3 linked regions of the Homo sapiens genome follow. The protein of the gene in region 2 purifies or fractionates together with the protein of the main gene of each other region. This does not show direct contact. Each region holds a gene or a part of one and is shown on either strand. Other genes may lie near its edges.

What was found.
Region 1: the proteins of SERPINB9 (region 2) and CASP10 purify together in Homo sapiens (affinity purification with western blotting, with the first as the bait; one study listed by BioGRID). This does not show direct contact.
Region 3: the proteins of SERPINB9 (region 2) and PPIAL4C purify together in Homo sapiens (affinity purification with mass spectrometry; one large-scale study listed by BioGRID and IntAct). This does not show direct contact.

Annotation. Positions count from the first base shown.
Region 1 is NC_000002.12:201,217,512-201,221,170, reverse strand, and holds part of CASP10 (caspase-10 isoform 1 preproprotein), read right to left. Parts: intron 3,584-3,659; coding exon 3,430-3,583; 3' UTR 1-3,429. UniProt on the Homo sapiens protein: Involved in the activation cascade of caspases responsible for apoptosis execution. Recruited to both Fas- and TNFR-1 receptors in a FADD dependent manner. May participate in the granzyme B apoptotic pathways.
Region 2 is NC_000006.12:2,886,691-2,890,119, forward strand, and holds the end of SERPINB9 (serpin B9), read right to left. Parts: 3' UTR 580-3,429; downstream 1-579. UniProt on the Homo sapiens protein: Granzyme B inhibitor.
Region 3 is NC_000001.11:149,582,331-149,585,231, reverse strand, and holds PPIAL4C (peptidyl-prolyl cis-trans isomerase A-like 4A/B/C), read right to left. Parts: upstream 1,385-2,901; 5' UTR 1,335-1,384; coding exon 840-1,334; 3' UTR 625-839; downstream 1-624. UniProt on the Homo sapiens protein: PPIases accelerate the folding of proteins. It catalyzes the cis-trans isomerization of proline imidic peptide bonds in oligopeptides.

The sequences.
Region 1 (3,659 bases), on a different chromosome or scaffold from region 2:
TGAGTTGCCGCTAATAAAGTCAGCTGGAATTACGCACAAAGGAACTTAAGTCCTGCTATTTCTGTTGCAGTTACAACCGGAAGACCCTACCACCTAAAGGCATTTATATGCACCTCAGCACAGTTAGATTTAAATAGATGCACACATAGGACACATTCTTTTTCGTCTTCCCAACAGCTAATGTTTTCTCTACTTTACAGACAAGGCTGAAAAAAGCTAGCTTGATTTAGTTAGTGTCTCTGAGCAAAGGAATCAGGACAAAATGGAAATGCAGGGCTTTGATCTCCAGATCCTTTGCTCTTTCCTCAGTATCTCACCATCCTTCACTTGCCTTCACATGTCAGTTCTGCCAACTGGACAAGGACTGTGACCACTAGCTTTTGGCCCTGACTGTTATGAACACGGTTTTGGGAGATCATCCTGACACATGTGTAAGAATTAAAGAAAGAGGAAAGAAACATGAAAGGTGGCTTGACAGCCAAGGACAGGTTTATTTTAGAGAAAACAAATTTGAAAGGGGCTTCTGGCCGAGTTAGGTCAGAGCCCACTCACTTACAGACTAAGAGTTTTTAAGGATTTAGGGTGGGAGAGTTTATCAGAGGCTTGGATTGCTTCTATGTCTCTTTGCTGTGCTTATCTGGGAGGGAGAGTTGTGTGTCCGTTCCCATACAATATTTCTGCAGCTGTAGGTACACCCCACCCCCCTCCAGTCTGCTTTTAGCTTCCCCACTTAGTGCACCTGAAGGGAAAGGAATGTGCTTATTAAGGCTCATTGTTTTCCTGGAACCCATTGTATGAAGGCAAAGTTTGGCAGTTACCCAAGAGACTTCCCCCACCCCCCCACCTCCCTCTATGCCAGAGCTGTCTTATCTGTATTTTACTCTCTTCTCTTTCTGGCTGCTCGCTGTTAGAAAAGAAGTGATTTCCTTGAAATGCATGAGGCTAGAAAGGGAACTGGAACTTAAAGTGGCGGTGTTTGTCTAAGATGACGGTGTTCCTGCCCTGTCAATATAGATTAGACATTCCCTCTGTCAAGCTACATTCAAATCCACATGACAATCAGAGATATCAGAACAGTGTTCTTGTGAATATTCTTATAACAAATTTACTGTACATGAATTTGACTTTCACATAAATAATTATAAATGCAGGCACCACTGAGAGTTGTTGTTCTTCATTCCTTGACATTTTTTTATGAGCATTCACATATCAAATGAAACACTCCTAATGCCCTTCCACGCCCCAAGGCATTCCAGTTCACCTGGCTGAAGTCAAATCCAGTAAATGAGGACTGTGAGCAGGTTGTTCACATCCCCAGGCCTCAGCTGCCTCATCTATAAATGAAGGCGTTAACCACAGGACTTTGGATCTCCCTATGAGGGCTCACCTTTAAGGATTCAAAATACAGTTCCAGGAATTAACAGAGAAAAAGTTCCTCTAGAAATTGAAAAAAAAAAAAAAAAAAGCTCAAGTACGTAAAAATGCTCAAAATCTTAATGAAGAAAGCATCAAGGCGTCCTTACAGAGCCACTCCCTTCAGGCAAGCCAGACATCCCCTCTGCCAAGAAGAGCCCAGTGATCCTGAGAACAGCTTCAGTTTCTGACACAGCCTCTCTCCTCATGCCTTGGGCCAGAGGAGCAAAGTGTAGTAGCAGTAACAAGGTGGGGACTGTCCACTGCAGTCTACTGCATCTGCCAGCCCTGAGGACATCCGGCCAAGAGAAAGGTGCTGGCCTGTAGATTGAGTCCTGATTCAAGCTTTGCCTGAAGCCAGTGTTATCCACTCCTGGGTTTCAATGTGAAAGAGGCAATAAATTCCCTTCTTTGCTTCAGTCAATTTGAATTGGGTGTTCTGTCAATGGCAACTGAAATGTTCCAACCCCAATATTGAATTTTTTTTTTAAACAAGGTCTCGCCCTGTTGCCCAAGCTGGAGTGCAGTTGTGTCATCTTGGCTCACCACAGCCTCTGCCTCCTGGATTCAAGAGATTCTCCTGTCTCAGCCTCCCGAGTAGCTGGGATTACAGGTGCTCGCCGCCACACCTGGCTAATTTTTGTGTTTTTAGTAATGATGAGGTTTTGCCGTATTGGCCAGGCTGGTCTCGAACTCCTGACCTCAAGTGATCTGCCTGCCTTGGCTTCCCAGAGTACTGGGATTACAGGCATGAGTCACCGCACCCAGTCCAAAATGGAATATGACATCAGGTTGTAAAGTTTCTGCTTGCAGAGCAGCTGAGTGTAAATGAGCCATCATCTTCCTACAGGGAAACCTGTCTCTAACCAAATAAAAACTTCCTATGTGAGCACCTTCCTTACACAAAAGCAGGAAATGGGCCTGGCATAGACCAAATTTTCACCTCACTAGATGTGCAAAAGAGAAGTCTTAGGAAGGGGGAGATCAGAGAGAGGGTGGGTGGACTGTGACCTCACTGTCCAATGTTTAAGGGCATGCAGAGGGGACACAGAATTATAACTAAGGGGTAGTTGTCTAGAGAGGCAATCTAAGCTCAATCTAGGCTAAGAACGTGGTTTTTGAACACCAAGGAACCTTAAAATGCACCTGGTCCCCAGGCCAGGCACAGTATTTCATGCCTGTAGTCCCAGAACTTTGAGAAGCTGAGGTGGGAGGATCGCTTGAGCCCAGGAGTTTGAGACCAGCTTAGGCAACATAGTGAAACCCCATCTCCACAAAAAAAATAAAAAGTTAGCTGTGCATGGACACACACCTGTAGTCTCAGCTACTTGGGAGGCTGAGGTGGGAGGATCGCTTGAACCTGGGAGGTCAAGGCTGCAGTGAACAGTGATCCCACCACTGCACTCCAGCCCAGGTGACGGAGTGACTCTGTCTCAAAGAAAAAGTACCTGCACAAACCAAAGCCAATTACTCTGTCTTCAGAATAGACATCCAAAACCAAGGCTACAATCCAAGTCTTCAATAATGAAAGTTTTCTGGCCAGGTGTGGTGGCTCGTGCCTATAATCCCAGTATTTTGGGGACAGAGGTGGGAGGATCACTTGGGCCTAGGAGTTTGAAACCAGCCTGTGCAACAAAGTGAGATCCCTCCATCTCTACAAAAAATAAAGAATAAAAAAAATCCGGGCACGGTGGTACACACCTGTGGTCCCAGCTACTTGGGAAGCTGAGGCGGGAGGACAGCTTGAGCCTGGGAGGTCGAGACTACAGTGAGCCGTGATTGCCCCCCTGCACTCCAGTCTGGGTGACAGAATGAGACTATCTCCAAAAAAAAGAAAGTTTTCTAACATTTAGACTTGCAAAAGAAAAAGAAAATCAGAATTGACTGTGTCAGAAAACACGGTGTTTCCTGTTTCTAGAATGACAGGTGGAGACCACCGATTCCTGTGCTGGGCAGGAGGCTGGAGGTTATAGCCAATGATTCGTTTGAGGTCTAAGAACCAACAAAAACTCTCTGCTATAATGAAAGTGCATCCAGGGGCACAGGGAATACTAGTTTTTTCCTTAGTGTGAAAGCAGGCTGGGGCATCTGTTTCTTTGTTCCCTGTTTGTCCACTCTTCGACTCACATCATCGTTGACAGCAGTGAGGATGGATAAGATGTCTTCATGTCTGCAACAAAGAAGAAAACAAAATTTTTTTTTACGGAGTCTCACTCTGTCGCCCAGGCTGGAGTGCAGTGGTGTGA
Region 2 (3,429 bases):
AGCTTCAATGGTTTACTTATATGCCATCCATAATCAGGTCAGGGGAAATGCTCTTGTTTAAAATTGTTACTAAAATTTAGAAATAGCCATAACAAGAAAAAAAAGATATGTAGGACTTATATTGAAAAAAACTCAAAAAAAAAGTTTTAATAAAAGTAGTATAGAAAAGGGCTTGAATAAATGGAGACTCTTCTCATTTTCCTTAATGAGATGACTAAACATTGTAAATACATCAATTTACTCAAGTAATTTATATGCTTAATGTCATGCTAATCCTTCCTCCCAAAAAATTGAAAGTTAAAAAAATTACTTTGGGTATTAAAAAATTATTCTAAAGTTCACCAGAAGAATAAAGATGGAAAAATAGATTTACAATATCCAGAAATTGGCTAATAAATAAAATTATGCTTTCTCCTGAATGTCAATAATACAAAATCAAATTCCATGTGAATTAGTTAAATCATTACAAAAATAAAAGTTTAGAGAAAAAACTATTTTATTTTACTACTTTATGAATGGAAAAGTACTTCTAAGAATGGAAGTGGTGTCGGAAATCACAAAGGGAAAATCTAGATTTGATTATAGAGGAAAACAAAACACTGTTTATTAATGAAACATCATAACAAAATTTAAAAGGCAATACAAGAATGAGAGAAAATATAAAACAGAGGGATAATATCTTTAATAGGCAAAGACATATGTAAAAACGAAGCAGAAAAGTAGGTGTATGAATGACAATTCATAGATGAGGAAATTCAAGAGCCAATAAATGCATAGAACACTTTCACCACTAATAAAAGAAATGCAATAAGTATCTGCATATGATACATAATGTTGCAGATGTTTGTAATTTACATAAAAGATACTGAACTAGGGCTGGGCTCAGTGGCTTATGCCTGTAATCCTAGCACTTTGGGAGGCTGAGGTAGGCGGATCGCTTGAGGCCAGGAGTTCAAGACCAACACGGCCAATGTGGCGAAACCCCGTCTCTACTGAAAAATACAAAATTAGCTGGGTGTGATGGTGGGTGCTTGTAGTCTCAGCTACTTGGGAGGCTGAAGCAAGAGAATTGCTTGAATCCAGGAGGAGGAGGTTGCAGTGAGCCCAGATCATGCCACTACACTCCAGCCTGGGTGACAGAGTGAGGCACTGTCTCAAAAAAAAAAAAAAAAAAAAAAAAGATACTGAACTAGGCACTTGACATCCAAGATGTCCACTTGGCCCTTTTCTAAGTGTACTTCACTTTGTTTTCATTCCTCCTCTAAAGCTTTTTAACAAACTGTCACTCGTGTTCTAAAAACAAACAAATGTCTTTCATCTCATTTTTTACTCAGCATTATCTATCAAAGGGACTGGATGTCCCATCTAGTTTGTACTTTAGTTTCTAGCTCATTACATAGGAAATGCAAATAAAAAACACAATGAGATACCACTTCACACCCACTAAGATGGCCATAACTTATTTTTTTTAAAAAAAGGAAAAGGAAAATAATAAGTGTTGGTGAGGAAGTGGACAGAAATTGGAATTCTCATACATTGCTGGTGGGAATGTGGAATGGTTCAACTGCTGTGGAAAACAGTTTGTCTGTTCCTCAAAAAGCTAAACATAGAATTAACATATGACCCAGCAGTTCCACTCCTAGATATATACCCAAGAGAATGCAAAATAGGCATTCAAACAAATACAGGTACACAAACATTCATAGCAGCACTATTCCCAATAGCCAAAAGTCAGAAACAACCCAAAGTCCATCAATGAATGAGTGGATAAATAAATTGTGCTATAAACACATAATACAATTTTATTTGGCCATAAAAATGAAGTGTTGATACATGCTACTATGTAAATAAATCTCAAAAACTTGTACTAAGTGAAAGAAGCCAGACACAAAAGGTCTCATACAATTCAATTTATATAAAATAGCAAGAATAGATAAATCCATAGAGACAGAAAGCAGATTGGTGGTTGCTGGGGGCTGGAGGAAGGAAGGAATGGAGAGTATCTGCTTAATGGGATGGGGTTTCCTTTTAGAGGAGAACATTTTTTTTGGAACTTTAAATAAAGGTGGTGGTTATGCAACATTGTTAACAATACTAAGTGGCACTGAACTTCTCACTTTAAAATAGTTAATTTTATGTTATGTGAAGTTTACCTCAATAAAAAAATTCTTAAAAAAAAAAACTCAGTGATATCCAACCATTAAAAAATATAAGTTACATAGCTCGTATATAATCAACTTACTTATTACTGCACTATGAGGGGCACCCAGATATGTAAGACAGAGTCCCAACCTTTGGTTGTTGGAGGACTATCTAAGGATACAGAGATTAATAAAAATAAAAGAACTACCACGAAAGAAGTGCCCTCCAAGTACAAAGAGAGTTCAAATATGTACATCTGGTTGCGGAGAAAGGAAAAACTTCTCAAAGAAGAATTTGAAGTGAGCTTTAAGGGTTGAATGGAATTTTTACTGTTAGAGGTAGAGAAATACAATATCATAAAGAAAGATGTGATCCCTACAAGAGGATTACGTGGTAAGTTGAAAGACATTAAACAGTCCAACCTGGTCATTGTCAAAACTATATACGTTGGGCACAGAACTGAAGACCAGGTGTCAAAGGAGGATGGCTCTGTCCCCTTTGTGTCCCCAGTGCCTAAAGCAGTGTTTGGTGCATGCTTGGTGATTGGTAAATGTCAAAGAAAAAGATAAAAGATAAAATATAGCCGGGCGCGGTGGCTCAAGCCTGTAATCCCAGCACTTTGGGAGGCCGAGGCGGGTGGATCACGAGGTCAGGAGATCGACACCATCCTGGCTAACACGGTGAAACCCCGTCTCTACTAAAAATACAAAAAATTAGCCGGGCGTGGTGGCGGGCGCCTGTAGTCCCAGCTACTCGGGAGGCTGAGGCAGGAGAATGGCGTGAACCCGGGAGGCGGAGCTTGCAGTGAGCCGAGATCGAGCCACTGCACTCCAGCCTGGGCGACAGAGAGCCAGACTGCGTCTCAGAAAAAAAAAAAAAAAAAAGATAAAATATAAATGTACATTTTACAACCTTTTTTATAAGGCTAAGCACCAGGAAATCTATAAAATAGTAGCAATATCTAGCACCATTTATTACCACTGAGGCAGCGGGTTAAGGAATGTATTCGCAGTGTCAGGAAAGCACAGGGTCGCCAGAGTGAATTGCATGTGGAATTCTAGAAGAACTTTGCTTGCCATCCTATGGGATTTGGACTGCAATTTTAATACAACAGGGAATCATTATGGTCTATTTTCTCAAGATTCTGATTAAGTAGCATAAGCGAGTGTGGAGCATCATGAATTCATGCTGGCAAATCATGAGGGCAGACAGGTAAAGAATCTGCCCTCATCTTTGCACTTGGCTTTCTAGGCCCATCCTCTTGGAGCTGTAGTGGGGATCTGGGGA
Region 3 (2,901 bases), on a different chromosome or scaffold from region 2:
CCATATATCATTTAAAAATTAAGTTAATCACCCTCAATAAGCCCTGTTTTAAAAAGAGGGATAAATGGAGAGGAAGGAAGGAAAGTTGTTAAGATACATAAGTATGCACAGGACAATACAAGAGAAACAATGTGTTTGGATGTCAAGGCTCTCCTTTCTGCAAGTGGCCAGCAGGTCACTATTGGCATCTATGGCCATGTGCCCTCAGCTAACACCTCTGCTAGTCAGGGTTTTGCCTTGTGAGATGACCAAATATTCATTCCTGACAGAGAAATGTCCTTGGTAATCTTTTTGTGTGAGCGTGCCATGGTCATTGTTAATTTCTTTCATTTAACAAAATAATAGACTTTATTTTTTGAGCAGTTTTAGCTTTATGGAAAGATCGAGCAGAAAGTACAGAGTTCTCACATACTGTCACCTTTATCCCACCCCCAGTTTACATTAGGGTTCACTCTTTGTGTGGTACAGGTCTAGGAGTTTTGCAAAACGCATAATGTCATGTACCCATCATTACATTATTACCAACGTATTTTCAATCCCCTAAAAATCGCCTGTTTCAGAACTATTTATCTCCCTACCCATCCCCAAACTCCTGGCAACCACTGAGCTTTTTTGTTGTTGTTGTTGTTACTTAGTTTTTATTTCATAATCATAAACTTAACTCAACTCTGCAATCCAGCTAGGCATGGAAGGGAACAAGGAAAACATGGAACCCAAAGGGAACTGCAGCAAGAGCACAGAGATTCTAGGATATTGCAAGCAAATGTGGTGGAGGGGTGCTCTCCTGAGCTACAGAAGGAATGGGTCTGGTGGTGAAAATAAAACACAAGTCAAACTCATTAGAATTGTCCACAGTCAGCAATGGTGATCTTCTTGCTGGTCTTGCTATTCCTGTACCCAAAGTGCTCCATGGCTTCCACAATATTCACACGTTCTTTCACCTTGCCAAAGGCCACATGCTTGCCATCCAACCACTCAGTCTTGGCAGTGCAGATGAAAAACTGGGAACCATTTGTGTTGGGTCCAGCATTTGCCATGGACAAGATGCCAGAACCTGTATGCTTTCGGATGAGGTTCTCATCATCAAATTTCTCCCCATAGATGGACTTGTCACCGGTGCCATTAGGGCGTGTGAAGTCACCACCCTGACACATAAACCCTGGAATAATTCTGTGAAAGCAGGAACCCTTATAACGAAATCCTTTCTCTCCAGTGCTCAGAGCACGAAAGTTTTCTGCTGTCTTTGGAATCTTGTCTGCAAACAGTTTGATGGAGATGCGGCCCAAGGGCTTGCCGTCGACGGTGATGTCAAAAAAGACGACGGAGTTGACCATGGCTGATAGTACAGGGCTCACAGCGATGGTGGCGTCTGCAAAGATAACCACTGATCTTTTTACTGTCTTTATAGTTTGGCCTTTTCCAGAATGTCGTATAGTTGAAATCACAGTATGTACCCTTTTCAGACTGGCTTCTTTCACTTAGCAAAATGTCTTTGTTTTTTCTGTATCTTTTTGTGGCTTGATAGTTTTTTCCTTTTAGCACTGAATAATATTCCACTGTAGGAATATACCACAGTTTGCTTATGCAGTCACTTATTGAAGGACATCTTGGTTGCTTCCAAGCTTTGGCAGTCTTCATTTCTTTCTTTCTTTCTTTCTTTCTTTCTTTCTTTCTTTCTTTCTTTCTTTCTTTCTTTCTTTCTTTTCTTTCTTTCTTTCTTTCTTTCTTTCTTTCTTTCTTTCTTTCTTTCTTTCTTTCTTTCTTCTTCTTTTTTTTTTTTTTGGAGACAGAGTTTTGCTCTGTCACCCAGGCTGGAGTGAAGTGGTACAATCTCAGCTCATTGCAACCTCCGCCTCCCAGGTTCAAGTGATTCTCTTCCTCAGCCTCTGGAGTAGCTGGGATTACAGGTGTGCACCACCACGCCTGGTTAGTCTTCAGGAATATTTACAGGACTGTATAGAATTAGGAGCCATCAAAGGGGATCCCTGAATTCTTTCTGTTTTTCTTACAAATACCAGTTTTAAGGTCAAGATTTACTACCCCATGCAACAGTGTAGCCGCATTTTAAATTTTAAATTTTTGACTGTTTGTTTAAAGGTCTCAGGCAACCTAAAAGGCTAGATAGAAGTCTCTCATCCTCTAACGAAGGATGGATTGTAAAATGGAATACTGCTAAGACTCTCCCTTTGGGTACTAATTCTGCAAAAACCTAGAATCTCAGAGACAAGAGACAAGTATTTGGAGTGGATCATTAGATGTAATGACAAAAGGAGTCACTTCAACATTCATAACAAATATCAAAGATTGTTGTATTTTTTATATGGGAGACACCAGACAAGCTTATACTTAGTTACTAGTTCAGAGGATACACCACCACATCCTCTAGCATGAGTACAATCTTATAAGCCATTGTCTCCAGCTGGCACTGTGATTGAGTCTTTAATAAAATATTCACCATTCTATAATAATAATAATTTTGGTTAGTGATAGGATAAATGGTGGACCAGGTGAGTCCAATGAATATCTACTCATTTGTTATACAACAAGTTCTTTTAATAGAAGGATGTAGAACAGGATATTATGGCAGTATATATAAGGCATTCAATGTACCCGTGGAGAGTGGCGATCAGAGAAAAATGATGTCAGGTAAAGCAAATGTAATTCAAGGATGAAGGTAGATTCCATTTACAAAATTCCTTGTTGCCTTTATCATAGAGGAGCTCCAATAAAATCAACAAGTCTGACAAAAGGTGACTGATTTATTCACCCAGGATATGTTATTGTGTGCTTAGCCTTGGACTTTGTTGCTTGTGTGTTGGACACCTAATAGTCTTGACAGCTAAATAGGCTTTTGTAAGCGAGAGTGGTAAAGTCCAACATGTTGCTAAACCTATGTGTATT